Homo sapiens: one gene and its partner. The protein of the gene in region 1 purifies or fractionates together with the protein of each later gene. This does not show direct contact. Each region holds a gene or a part of one and is shown in the gene's direction. Other genes may lie near its edges.

The links.
Region 2: the proteins of BBS10 (region 1) and MKKS purify together in Homo sapiens (co-immunoprecipitation; 2 studies listed by IntAct, with this or other methods). This does not show direct contact.

Annotation. Positions count from the first base shown.
Region 1 is NC_000012.12:76,345,416-76,353,287, reverse strand, and holds the start of BBS10 (BBSome complex assembly protein BBS10), read left to right. Parts: upstream 1-4,872; 5' UTR 4,873-4,929; coding exon 4,930-5,126; intron 5,127-5,500; coding exon 5,501-7,475; 3' UTR 7,476-7,872. UniProt on the Homo sapiens protein: Probable molecular chaperone that assists the folding of proteins upon ATP hydrolysis. Plays a role in the assembly of BBSome, a complex involved in ciliogenesis regulating transports vesicles to the cilia. Involved in adipogenic differentiation.
Region 2 is NC_000020.11:10,403,060-10,410,340, reverse strand, and holds part of MKKS (molecular chaperone MKKS), read left to right. Parts: intron 1-1,537; coding exon 1,538-1,713; intron 1,714-2,614; coding exon 2,615-2,725; intron 2,726-4,653; coding exon 4,654-5,094; 3' UTR 5,095-7,281. UniProt on the Homo sapiens protein: Probable molecular chaperone that assists the folding of proteins upon ATP hydrolysis. Plays a role in the assembly of BBSome, a complex involved in ciliogenesis regulating transports vesicles to the cilia.

The DNA of each region.
Region 1 (7,872 bases):
AGGGCATGTGAAATGTTAAGTTACAGCAATAGATATTTTATTTGTATTTCATGTTAGTACTTTTTTGTTTTATATCACTTATAAAGGTACAGTGTACTCTTTGTCACAGCTCAGTTGGTAACCGCATTCCATTGAAAAGTTGGCCTTGTAAAATACAACTCTCATTTAATATTCATGCTTTTGTGCCTTTAAGAAAATATTTTTTGTCATTTTTTGTGTTACAGAACTATAATGTGATTCAAGGTGTTTATAGGCTTGTCATAAAAGGGTCATTTCTGTGTGTTACTTTCTTTTTATATAGCTATAGTATATTTAAACAATAATACTATCTTTTATAGGGGTTTGTCTATTTACCTATTCTTTACTCAGACATTGATGTAGACTTGTCAGATTATTCTGAGTATTGTTAACAGTGCCTTTTCGATGGAATCACACTTTTTGGCTGTCACCTTGTGCCATATACACACAAAATTTTGTGGAAGGCAGTTTTAACTTTCTGAAGAATATCTGTCAAAATTTAAGAAAACAAATGTATAAAATTCCATTTTTTCCAGTGTTTAGCATTTCTAGTAAGCAGTGAGGTTGTTTGACATACAGTGATGATGGCATTATTGATAAGCCATACATGAGACTGCAGATTATATTGAATCATATTAAATGTACAGAAATAAAATATTAGATTTATATCAAATTTTCCAATTTGAACCAGTGGGGAAAATCCCACAGAAATCAGTAAGTTTACATTTCAATTTCTATCTTATTTGACTAAGTGGAAAGAGATTCTTTAAAATGTATAACCTGCCATTATGTAATTTGGTTTCATTTTATTCTACCTGTTGTGTGAGTTTAGTATATTTAATTTACTTTTTGTTACTCTTTACATACTGTTTATTTTTGTTAGTTTTTAATTGAAGATGGACTGTTGAAATTGTATAGGACCAGTGTCTTATTAATATGATTAATATATTTAGAAGAGCCACGTGAAACCCATGACAAAATGAATGTGAATATTCTTTCTAAAAATTTAGAAAATGTTATCTTTTTGCATTTATTATGTAAAACTGTTTTACAGTATCAAAATTTTTCACTTAAAGAAAAAAAATGCCATGAAACATTTGAACTGATGAGCCACAGAACTTCAGTTGAAATTTTTTTCACTTTTTAGCATGCTAAATATACATCTGAGTTTAAATGTTCTGTTTAATGGCCATTCATAAATTCAAGCACTACCACTGGTCAGTTTTGTGTGATAGAATAAAAATATGTTACCTGCAGTGTAAGTACAGCACACTGTCAAATTCTTTTCCTTAAGGTGCACAGTAAATGTACAGATAGTTATAGGCCACTGTTTTGTAATGTAGTACATTTCTAATCTATTATTCCTAACCTATTATAACTGTTTGCAGAAAGAAAAGAATTTTTCTAATAATCTGTAAAATTATGCTAACTTCTACAAGTAGGCTTCTAAATAAAATTTTTAAAAAGAGCAAACGGTGATCAAGTGACTTTTAATACAATATGATGACTAAATTATTGCTAATTTGTTTTAATCCCCCCTTTTGTGGGGATAGGGATAGCTGCAAAGGATGGCAAAGGGCTTGAAAGGGATTCAACAGTGAGAATCCCTGAAGTATGCTTTGCTTGGTGCCTTATATTCATTCTTCTCGAATCCTCTATGAGAACCTTAGGTGGACGTTAGCCAGATTTTATACATGAAGATGCTGAGGCTCAGAGAGGTTGAAAGTCTCCAAAAGCTGCGGAGTAAGAGTGGTAGCCGACTCTTACTTTAAGAGTAAAAGCACAAGTTTGAATCTGTATCTCCGTGGTACACTTAAATAGAACTCTAATAGCACTTCACTTCTAAATGTCAGGAATATAATCCACTGCTTGAATCTATATTGAGTAATGTAACCCCTTTGTTATGAGTAGCACCACAAAAAAACCCTACTATTAAACATATACGAAATCCATATGAAAGGGTTTTTTTTTCCCCCCTCAGATCACCTATTAGTCCATACTGAGTCAACATCAGATGAGTTCCGAGACATCATTCCTCTCTGGTTTTCCCCCACCCTCCTTTCTTCCCATTCTTGCTCTCTGCTCAGGGTCCAGTTGCTTCTGGCTGTCATTTGGTTTGGTTTTATTAATTGGGGAGAAAAAGATGGGAGGGCCTGCCGGTTCCTCCTATCTTGTTCATAGCAATAAGGATTAAGGAAAACGGCCCCTCATTGTCCAACCTCGTGAAACATCTACAAGATCATTTTCTTGCTAATACTGGCATGCTTCGACTCTAGATGATGTATGTTGTGCCATTATGCTAGTTGAATCTTCTGCATCTCACAAAATATCACTTGTGGGAATAATAAACCAGGAGAGTGGTGACCTACCACAGTAATTTGGTGGGTGCGTCAGAGGCATCTGAACCAGAGCAACTCCAGTAATTTGGTGGGTGCGTCAGAGGCATCTGAACCAGAGCAACTCCATCTTGAATAGGAGCTGGGTAAAATGAGGCTAAGATCTAGGCTGCATTCCCAGATGATTAAGGCATTCTAAGTCACAGGATGAGATAGGAGGTTGGCACAAGATACAGGTCATAAAGACCTTGCTGATAAAACAGGTTGCAGTAAAGAAGCCAGCCAAAACCCACCAAAACCAAGATGGCCACGAGAGTGACCTCTGGTTGTCCTCACTGCTATACTCCCACCAGCACCAAAGACAGTTTACAAATGCCATGGCAATGTCAGGAAGTTACCCTATATGGCCTAAAGAGGGGAGGCATAAATAATCCACTCCTTGTTTAGCATATCATCAAGAAATAACCATAAAAATCGGCAACCAGCAGCCCTTGGGGCTGCTTTGCCTATGGAGTAACCATTCTTTTATTCCTCTTTCTTAATAAACTTGCTTTCACTTTATGGACTCGTCCTGAATTCTTTCTTGCATGAGATCCAAGAACCCTCTCTTGGGGTCTGGATTGGGACCCTTTTCCTCTAACAGGTGTAATATAAATATCTGTTGAGTGCTAACTATGCCAGGCACTATGCAAAGTGTTTAGTGAACATTCTCCACCTACTCAAAACCTCTTGAGATTTTTATTTTGTATATGTTATCTCCACTGGTTTTTTTGGCGGGGATTGTTTTGTTTTGAGACAAGGTCTCGCTCTGTCGCCCAGGCTGGAGTGCAGTGGTGCAATCTTGGCTCACTGCAACCTCCCTTCCCGAGTTCAAATTATTCTCATACCTCAGCCTCCAGAGTAGCTGGGATTACAAGCATGCACCACCATGCCCAGCTAATTTTTGTATTTTTAGTAGAGACGGGATTTTGCTATGTTGGCCATGCTGGTCTTGAACTCTCGGCCTCCTGTGATCTCCCACCTCGGCCTCCCAAAGTCCTGGAATTACAGCCATGAGCCACTGCGGCAGGCCCATTGTTTTTAAAGATGAGAAAAGCAGAGATCAAAGAGGTTACTTGGTGAATGCCACAGGTAAGGAAATGACAGAGCAAATCCAGGTCTGAATCCAAAGCCCATGCTCTCAAGTGCCTGTGTTTTAGGCCAGGCAAGGTGGCTCATGCCTGTAATCCTAAAACTTTGGAAGGCCAAGTTGGGAGGATCACTTGAGGCCAGGAATTCAAGATCAGCCTGGGCAACACAGGGAGACCCTGTCTCTACTAAAAGAGAAAATAACCAGGCGTAGTGAGGCACAAAGCGACTTGAAGGCTAAGACAGGAGGATCACGAGCTCAGGAATGCGGAGCTGCAGTAAGCTATGATCTCGCCACTGCACTCCAGCCTGGGCGGCAGAGTGAAACTTCATCTCTTAAAAAACAAAAAAAATGTTATAAGAGACAGTATTTTCTGTCTTTGGGTTATATACAATAATCCTTGGCCATGTGTTTTAAAGCATACTGTTGATCACCGACGTGATTAATGGATTTAAATCTGCACAGCGGCTCATGCCTGTAATCCCAACACTCTGAAAGGCCGTGGCAGGTGGATCATTCAGGTCATGAGTTCGAGACCAGCCTGGTCAACATGGTGACATCCCCATCTCTACTAAAAATACAAATATTGGCGGGGCACAGTGGCGTATGCCTGTAATCCCAGCTACTTGAGAGGCTGAGGCACGGGAATCGCTTGAGCCCGGGAGGCGGAGGTTGCAGTCAGCCGAGATTGCGCCACTGCACTCCAGCCTGGGCGACAGAGCGGGAGTCCATCTCAAAAAATAGAGACTTCGCATCATTTCTGCTTAATATATTTGTGGTGTCTAGAGTTTTATTGTGATACCTGAGTCTAGGAAATGTGGTAAAGCCTCTGCAGCAGACATAAAGCCTGCAATTCATGGCTGTGGCCAGGCTCTCCTCACCTGTCCTGCATCTACAAATTATTTCCGTTATGGTAAGGAGAGCAACTCGTGGGGAATGTGGACAGGAACATGCGTGAATCCAAGGCAGAGGTTTTGCCCCGGAAAAAGCAGCTTCTGGCAGGGGATGAAAGCCAGCAGAGTTCCAACCGGGGTGCCCTCTCCTTCACGCAGGCCCCACTACCGTGTTGACTTAGGAAGAAAGTTTCTCGGGAGACTAAGGGATTTGGGGGCAGCGGACGCCACTGGAGGGAGATGAATTCACCTAGGGAGCCGGGGAGGGGCTTAGGGTTGCCGCTCCAGGCACAGCTGCTGGAAATCCTAGTCTGTTTTTTCTGCCTTCGCGTACAACGGGCCAGCTCACCCCACCTGGCAAAGCTGCAGGGCTTTTCCACCAGGCGGACAGAAGGGCAGCCCTCTCGCCCAACCAAGAAGCCGTGCTACCCCGGCTTCGACTCCTGGCTTCCGGGTTTTCTCCCCGCCTATTCCGTTTCCGGCCGTTCCCACCCCTGTTTTCGGTCGGCCCGGGTGTTCTGCAAGCTGGTCAAAAAGGGGAAGCGGCCCAGATATGTTAAGTTCTATGGCCGCTGCAGGGTCTGTGAAGGCGGCGTTGCAGGTGGCCGAGGTGCTGGAAGCCATCGTGAGCTGCTGCGTGGGGCCCGAGGGACGGCAAGTTTTGTGTACGAAGCCCACTGGCGAGGTGCTTCTCAGCCGGAATGGAGGCCGCCTCCTGGAGGCGCTACACTTAGAGCATCCCATAGCCAGGTACCCGCGTCCCACACGCTAACCCGTAGCCGGGCACCCCAGGCAGCCTCTGTGGAGCTCTTGTCCCATCCTGAGGCGATGCGTACTTAGAAAGACTGACCTCGGGTGAAACCGCTGTATGCTCGGAATTAGAGCCCTGCCCAAGGGAACACTCCTGCACCCCAAATCTTACCAATTCTCAAGACCACTTCTCCCCACTCCACCCAACGGTGGAATCTTGGAATAGAGCAGAGTTTTTTCCAAGAAAGGAAAAAACTAAGGATGTATCCAAGGAACAATATTCTCATTTTATGCTTATGGCTGTGTAAACATGGTTTTAAGATGTGGGAAGCCAGCCTTCTGAAAATGAGTTGCTTTATTTCTTTTTTGTACAGGATGATAGTGGACTGTGTTTCCAGTCATCTCAAAAAAACAGGAGATGGTGCAAAAACATTTATTATCTTTCTTTGCCATTTGCTTAGAGGACTTCATGCAATCACAGACAGAGAAAAGGATCCTTTGATGTGTGAAAACATTCAAACCCATGGAAGGCATTGGAAAAATTGTTCTCGGTGGAAATTTATTTCCCAGGCTCTCCTAACGTTTCAGACACAAATATTAGACGGTATTATGGACCAGTACCTAAGTAGACACTTTTTGTCTATCTTTTCGTCTGCTAAAGAGAGAACATTGTGTAGGAGCTCTTTAGAGTTGCTCTTAGAAGCATACTTTTGTGGAAGAGTGGGAAGAAATAATCATAAATTTATTTCACAGTTGATGTGTGACTACTTTTTCAAGTGTATGACTTGTAAAAGTGGGATTGGTGTATTTGAGTTAGTGGATGACCATTTTGTAGAGTTGAATGTTGGTGTCACTGGCCTTCCTGTTTCAGATTCCAGGATCATAGCTGGTCTTGTGCTTCAGAAAGATTTTTCTGTGTACCGCCCAGCAGATGGTGACATGCGAATGGTGATAGTAACAGAAACCATTCAGCCTCTTTTTTCCACTTCTGGATCAGAGTTTATTCTAAATTCAGAAGCACAGTTTCAGACATCTCAATTTTGGATTATGGAAAAGACAAAAGCAATAATGAAACATCTACATAGTCAGAATGTAAAATTGCTCATATCTAGTGTGAAACAACCAGATTTAGTTAGTTATTATGCAGGGGTGAATGGCATATCAGTGGTTGAGTGTTTATCATCAGAAGAAGTTTCTCTTATCCGGAGGATCATTGGTCTTTCTCCATTTGTACCACCACAGGCCTTTTCGCAGTGTGAAATACCTAACACTGCTTTGGTGAAATTTTGTAAACCTCTTATCCTTAGATCCAAAAGATATGTTCATCTAGGCTTGATAAGCACATGTGCATTTATACCACACTCTATAGTTCTTTGTGGACCAGTGCATGGTCTCATTGAACAACATGAGGATGCTTTACATGGAGCACTTAAAATGCTTCGGCAATTATTTAAAGACCTTGATCTAAATTACATGACACAAACCAATGACCAAAATGGCACTTCAAGTCTTTTTATTTATAAGAACAGTGGAGAAAGTTATCAAGCACCAGATCCTGGTAATGGCTCAATACAAAGGCCTTATCAGGACACAGTTGCAGAGAACAAAGATGCATTGGAAAAAACTCAAACATATTTAAAAGTACATTCTAATTTGGTAATTCCAGATGTAGAATTAGAAACATATATTCCGTATTCAACCCCCACACTGACACCAACAGATACATTCCAAACAGTTGAAACGCTGACATGTTTGTCTTTGGAAAGAAACAGGCTAACTGATTATTATGAACCATTACTCAAGAACAATTCCACTGCTTATTCAACAAGGGGAAATAGAATAGAAATTTCTTACGAAAATTTACAGGTCACAAATATTACTAGAAAGGGAAGCATGTTACCAGTGAGCTGTAAGTTACCGAATATGGGTACTTCCCAGAGTTACCTTTCCTCATCTATGCCAGCTGGTTGTGTTTTGCCAGTAGGTGGTAATTTTGAGATCTTGTTACATTACTATCTTCTCAATTATGCCAAAAAATGCCATCAATCAGAAGAAACCATGGTTAGTATGATAATAGCTAATGCACTTTTAGGCATTCCCAAAGTCCTTTATAAATCTAAAACAGGAAAGTACAGCTTTCCACATACATATATAAGAGCTGTCCATGCACTGCAAACCAATCAACCCTTGGTAAGCAGTCAGACAGGTTTGGAATCAGTAATGGGTAAATACCAGCTACTAACTTCAGTTCTTCAGTGTTTGACAAAAATATTAACCATTGACATGGTAATCACTGTTAAGAGACACCCTCAGAAAGTTCACAATCAAGATTCAGAAGATGAACTATAACATCAGAAGTTTTTAATTAACCAAACTTTTCATCTAACTCAAGCCAAGTAAAGCAGTCATGTGACCACTGGTTCTAAAGTCAGTTCAGTCTACTTAGGAAAATAGCGTAACTTTAAAAGTCTTTAGAAGAAGCACACTAAGGTCACCAGACCAGATACAAATATTAAATTACTTTATGGAACAAATCTAGAGGGGAAGCCAAGATTTGGCTAAGTGTGTCTGTTTTTTCCCTATTTTATGCCTCTGTGTCTCAGCTCTGTGTTAGCCTATGTGTTTAGGGGAGGGTTTTTCTTTATAGCTCCTTTTTACTCTCCTGTATCTTTTTCACTCCAGCCCTCCTTCATCGTTACATGTTTAGTTCATAGAATCATTTAATCTCTGATTTGGGTGGGCTTAT
Region 2 (7,281 bases), on another chromosome or scaffold:
TTTTAACATTTGACTTGGTTTGATTTATTTGTGAAGTATGCATTATTATCCCCACTTGCCTCTCATGTGAGGGAGGCAGAAAAGTTAAATGACATGAGTGACAGCATCCAGTGGCTGATAAGCAGTAGAGCCGGCCTTCTCATGCAGAATCTGTTGTTCCCACCATGTGAAAGAAATTATACTATAAGATTTTGGGTTTTTTACTTAGATCACTTTTTTAAAGTATTCATTATTCTTGAATATTTCAGAAGTAAACAATATTCAAATAAGTGAAATTGTTTAGTGATTATATTCTATAAATTTTTTGAGATGGAAGTGTTTTTAGGCATTTTAGCTTTTTTTTTTTTTTTTTTTTTTTTTTTTGAGACAAAGTCTCGCTCTGTTGCCCAGGCTAGAGTGCAGTGGCGCAATCTCAGCTCACTGCTCACTGCAACCTCTGCCCCCCAGGTTCAAGCGATTCTCCTGCCTCAGCCTCCCAAGCAGCTGGGATTACAAGCACCTGCCACCACGCCCGGCTAGTTTTTGTATTTTTAGTAGAGACGGGGTTTCACCATGTTGGCCAGGCTGGTCTCGAACTCCTGACCTTAGGCAATGCCCGCCTCAGCCTCCTAAAATGCTGGGATTACAGGCATGAGCCACTACACCCGGCCGACATTTTAGACTTTCAAACTAAACCCCATTAGTTTGAAAGAAACCATCTTTTAAAGGTGAGTCTGAAAGAAAAGGAAACTAGCTGAAAGGGGTGAATGGCTCAGAATTATAGCTTTAGACTTTAGTATTGTTTCTTGTAGGAGTTTGATGTAGGTTTCTTTTCTTACATAACTTCCATTACGTTTGGAGATTTGGAAAATTCAAGTCACGCTAACTTCTTTATTCATATTTTTACTTGTGGTTTATAAAACTTCACTATTTTACATGTGCAGGTAGGAGGACAAAATACTTAATATATCAAATAATAGCAGTGAAATAAGCATGTCACTTTATTTTGGCATAATTCAGTTAGCTATTTTATAAATAGTTGCCAGACAAAAAAATAATTCTTACATATTCACTATGTAGCGTCCCGAAGGAATTCAACTACACAACTATTTGGATAGCAGCATTTATTTTAAATTGAAAATAATAATGCCTTTAAAAAAAAATAGCCTGTCACATCACCCGTAATCCAAATTAGTGAAGTTCTTAATTTGGGGTCTCTAAACCCTGAATGGGCTTTGAGGGTTTTCTGAATTCCTTGAAAATGTATGCAAAATTGTATGTGCCCTTTTCTGGGAAGACAGTACAAAATGACTTCTAAAAGATTTTCAAAGAGATCTGTAAACAAAAATAACTTCTACTTTACTTTATTTGTATATCATTTTAATAGCAGAATATAACTTAGCAGTTTAGGAATATTCATCTTATTTATCCTGTATTTCATATTTTAAATTATATGCTTGTGGGGCTTTTATGTTGGCTAGGAATAAATATACTTTTAAATGGTTGTTTGCTCCACTTTTGCTTATACAACTTGTATTTTCTAATCTTTAAAAAATAGGAACACAGCCTATTGGATCCCTAGGCTCAATATGTCCTAATAGTTATGGAAGTGTGAAAGATGTGTGCACTGCAAAATTTGGCTCCAAACATTTTTTTCATCTTATTCCTAATGAAGCAACAATCTGCAGCTTGCTTCTCTGCAACAGAAATGACACTGCCTGGGATGAGCTGAAGGTAGGTAATGAACTTTGAATTCCATATGCAGAGGCTGAGGGAGGAATTAGTCACTCAATAGTTATTATGATTTTTTTTTCGTAGCTTCCCTAGGTAGTATAGAAAGCAAAAATTAAAATGATTGATGCAAAGTCACAAGTAAGCTAATTTAAATGCCTGTGGCATTATAATAAATTTGGCATGTGTTGCCATTTATTATTTCTACTATTTACTAGAAACCTAAAAGGCCCTTGACATGCGAACTTTTCTAAGAAATTAGCTTGAATTGTGTAGTCTTTGATGGTAATGTGTATGAATAATTCACTTGGAAAAATGAGTTCCCCAGTCAATACCCATCATCCACTTCTTAGCAGAGTTTCCTGTTCTCTGCCAGCAATAATACATGCAACTTTTATACAAGGGAAATGATAATCTATGGGATTGGTCACAAGTTTTAAAGATTCATGTATGCTCAAGGATATATCCTTAGTAAATGTTAAAGGTCTGTGTGATTTTTTATTTATTATTGCTGGGATGTAACTGTATTATTTCCAAATCCATTCAAAATAAATTTATTATTTAGACTGAAATGATTTTTTTAGTGGAAGTGTCAGCAAACCTTGTTGACCCAGATATTTTGAGGCCATATATTCGTCTCAGTTTGAAGAGCTAAGTGTATATGAAAGAAAATACTAATCTGGCTCCGTGAAAACAAACTTCTGACTGAAGTATCTTCCCTTAATCTCTAAACCTTACTATTCAGAATGTATTAATCACATGACAACCTTGGCACCACACAAGTTTTGTTCTTTTGTAATTAAAATCACACTCTCTGTATTCACTATGATGCTTTGAGAGCATGATTTTTTGTGTGTTAATATGATGTGAACGTCTGATTCTGATGATTTGGGTTTTTTCTTAGCTCACGTGTCAGACGGCACTGCATGTCCTGCAGTTAACACTCAAGGAACCATGGGCTTTGTTGGGAGGTGGCTGTACTGAAACTCATTTGGCTGCATATATCAGACACAAGGTATGTAAGATAATCCTCTTCGGATTACCTGAATTCTCAGCAACTTTTGTTTTCTGAGATAATAAGCCAAAATCATAATATCCTATAGTCTTTTTGTTAGTTTTAACTTTTAGGTTCAGGGGTGCATGTATAGGTTTGTTATACAGGTAAACTTGTAGCCTTTAACACTGAATTTTTCAGTAGTCTAAATAAAGTAGATAATCAAAAACACTTGAGGGAAATAACAAGGTAAATATAAGGTAATATCCTTATTACAATGATTATTATAAAAATATTTAAGCAAGCGATCACGTTCTTTGAGTATTGTCTACATGTTCTGCATGTTGAAGCTAGCATTCTGTTATTGGGAGTTCTCTTAGAGATCTCAACTGCTGCAATACAGTAATAATTGATGTTCACAAACAAAAGGGCCAAGTTTCTACAGAATACTTCAGTATCTTCTAGAGCATCAAGAAAAGTTTCATTTATTTAAGCAATTCACATATTAGATTCTATTATAATTTTAAAATTGGTATTTATGTATGTTATTTATTAATTATACTAAATAGAATTTTTTGATTGGTCTAGGAAACTCCATTTCCTGACAGCTCTCAGATAAGTTTAGTGCATTGTTGTTCTGATTATTTCATAAGTACTGGCCTACTTTATTTGAAAATGGATAGAAAAAGGTATAGGTGTTTTCCAGATATTAGCAATCGATTCATTGGGTAAACATGCCCTGTCCTTCCCCAAATAACTTAGAATCTCTTTGAAGATAAAGCACATTCATGAAAAGTTATCAGAATATACATTATGGAAAACAAAATTTGTGCCAATCTATTGGTGCTGAATGGACAATAATGTATTCTGAAATGGAATTGATAAACTAGAGAAAGTTTTTTAGAGGAAGGAGGTGTCTTGAGTAGGAAAGTAGTCACTGTTTTTAAGCAGTTAAGATATGGATTTTTTAACCCATCATTCAGTTATTAGTTTGCTAATACAGACATGTTGCTTAACAAAGATATATTCTGAGAAATGCATCATTAGACAATATTGTTGTGCAAACAATATAGAGTGTACTTGCACAAACCTACATGGTAGAGCCTACCACACTCCTAAGCTATGTGGTATAGCCTATTGCTCCTAGGCTACAAACCCTTACAGCATATTACTGTACTGAATACTGTAGGTAATTGTAACACAATGGTATTTATGTATCTAAACATATCAACACACAGAAAAGGTTAGTAAAAATATGGCCTTATAATCTTATGGGACCACTGTTGTATATGCAGTCTATCATTGACTGAAGTGTTGGTATGTGGTGCATGGCTATATATTAATTTTTCTTTTTATCATGGAATTTCTAGGATAAACATTTTTAAATAGTGGAACCAGAAGACTGTTTAAGGTCTTATTACCTTTTCATTAATTTAAAGAGAAGAATATTCATTTTTAAAACATTGATATGAAAATTTACATCATGATTTCCAAATAAAAATATGTGCATTCCCATTTTAAGCAAATCTCAAACATTTTGCAGAGATAAATAAGTACTCCATTTGGGACATCAGTCTTCAGGAACTTCCTCCTGTGTGCAGAAAAACCTGTAATACATGTATTATGCCTAGTCCTTCATGTATTAAGGAGGCACTACCAAGCCTCATTCAGAATAAGCTGATGGTGGGGTTATTCTGATTCACTCATTCTGGTAACATGACTGGTAGTATATACATTTTTAATACATTTTTACTATAACCAACCTAGTTAAGGGTTTGCAACCCGGCCGGCTGACCCATACAAGCCCGTTAGCATTGTGCCAGACCCCAAATTAAATGAAAGTAAGTAATTACTTTAGGAATAAGATTTTGATTTCAGTATCTTATTTTTCTGAAACATTTTATATTAATTGCTTTGTATGTGTTTTCAATGTTTTTATTACTCTTTAGACTCACAACGACCCAGAAAGCATTCTCAAAGATGATGAATGTACTCAAACAGAACTTCAATTAATTGCTGAAGCATTTTGCAGTGCCCTAGAATCTGTTGTTGGCTCTTTAGAACATGATGGAGGTGAAATTCTCACTGACATGAAGTATGGACACCTTTGGTCAGTTCAGGCAGATTCTCCCTGTGTTGCTAACTGGCCAGATTTGCTTTCACAGTGTGGCTGTGGATTATACAATAGCCAGGAAGAACTCAACTGGTCTTTCTTAAGAAGCACACGTCGTCCATTTGTGCCACAAAGCTGCCTTCCACATGAAGCTGTGGGCTCAGCCAGCAACCTGACCTTGGACTGTTTGACTGCAAAGCTTAGTGGCCTACAGGTGGCTGTAGAGACAGCCAATTTGATTTTGGATCTTTCATATGTTATTGAAGATAAAAACTAAGAGAATAGCATGTTCGTATTACAAGAGAAACAAATAAACTAGTCTGTTGGCAATTGAGAAAAATTGTGAGTGTATTTGTTTTCTCCCAAAGCCCTGTTCTACATATTTGGACAAATGACTCATAAAATTATAGATACACTTATTTAGGAAAAAAGGTGATTCGTGAATGGAAATGCCATGAAACAATAAAAATATGAAGCATTATTTATTTAAAAATATTATAGTTATCTTAGGGATTCTATACTGGCTGCTGTACATTGTTCTAAATTTTTGTTATGTTGGCATCATTTTGAGAGCAAACAAATAAAAAAGACTCCTAATCCATGCTCTAGTTTGGATATACATATTTTAGATATTTTCCAGTTAGCAGTAATTACATATGCTTAAAGTATAAAACTAGATCTCAAAGTGTCACAAAACATTCAGTATATATTGCTCAATCAAAAGAAGTATTCAAACTGCACATTTAGTAAAATTTCACTTTTCTCCATGCCCTTTATCTCAAGCTATATTCTTCAGTGGTTAGGTAATTGAGTAGAACCTGGTTTGCCTGCAATTTGTAGTTTATATCACAACTCCACATTTTTGTTATTTTGGGGAAATGTTTGCTTTTGGGGGGAAAAAGTAGATTTATATAGTAACCAAGGCTAAAGCAACATTGTAATGTCTTCATTTTTAAAGTGGGAAGAAGGACTGGTTTGTTTTACACTGGGGTTTCTCAACTTTGGCATTATTGACATTCTGAGCCCCATAATTCTTTGTTGTACGGAGGCTGCCCTGTGCATTACAGCTTACTGAGCAGCATCCCTGGCCTCTGCACACTAGATGCCAGTAGCACCCTCCTGTTGTGACAACCAAAAATGTTTCCAGACATTGCCAAATGTCCCCCGAAGAGCAAAACTGTTGTTGGTTGAGAACCATAGACTGATAGAAAAAGGAAGGACAATAAGGAGTATTCTAGCAGGACTTCAGAAAGCAGCATAAAGGGAAGGGGAAGTTATTTCTCTAGTCAATAGTATGAAAAAGAAAGTAGAAAATCTCCCATGTTCAAAGTAGAGACATTATGTTTCACCAAGGGATGTAGTTTGAATTTTATGCAAATATAAGATGTATTGATAAATTGAAGAAGAAATATAGAAGGCAGCCACATGAATAAGCATGGAGCTATAACAAATGTTGTATTAAACTTTAGGAAAATATTTTGGAAATTTTTGGGAAACAAACCAACCTAATAGTCAATGATCAGATCTATAGCCATGATAAAGAGAAATAGAATTGTTAAACAATTTCCTCTGATATTCTTGTAATCAAAAAGAATTTTTACTCTGAGCCAAAGGAAAAAACTAGCAATACAAGCAGCAATGCCATCCATATATGTTAGGTATCAGCCCCACCTGAAGTCTCATAAAATATTTATCAAAAGTTTTACTCCTTTTATTATTACAATCAAATAGAAGGGCAGTGTGGTAGGCAGCCTCTAAGGTGGCCCCACCTCCTAGTTTCAGACCTTGCATAATTTCCTCCCCTTGAGCATGGGCTAGACTTAGTGACTCCTTTATGTCTCCCATTTCCCAGCTTTGTGGACAGAATGTTATGGTGATGGTTATGGTTATGCCTTATCCATAATTTTATGCTGTGAGTAGAAGGCAGATAACTTTTCTCTAGTTTCATGGGTCTACAGATGGAAAGCAACTGTGTTCCAGGAACTGTACTTAAAGAACTACCTCCTGAGGAAGCCTGGGGTGATTCCAGTTATGATATCACCCTGACTTGATTCCAATTATGAGATTCTGAACTTTGAGCTGATGTTGTAATGCAAAAGTGAAACTTTTGAGGATCTGAGGAGTAGGGGGGACGTATTTTGCATGTGGTAGGCAGCCTCTAAGATGGTTCCCAATAATCTCACTTCCTGGTGGTTCACTCTCTGGGTGTAGGTGGGACCTAATGACTAGCTTCTAATGAATAGAATACAGCAGAAGGGACAGGATATCACTTCTGATATTTGGTGGTAAAAAGATGAGTTTGTCTCTTGATGCCTTCTCTCTCAATGGAAGCCAGCTGTCATGTTGGGAACTGCCCCCTGGGGAGGCCCACATAGCAAGGGTTGAGGGAGGCTTCTAGCCAACAGCTCAAAAGGAACTGAATCGTACCAATAACCACAAGAGTGAATTTGGAAGCAGGTTCTCC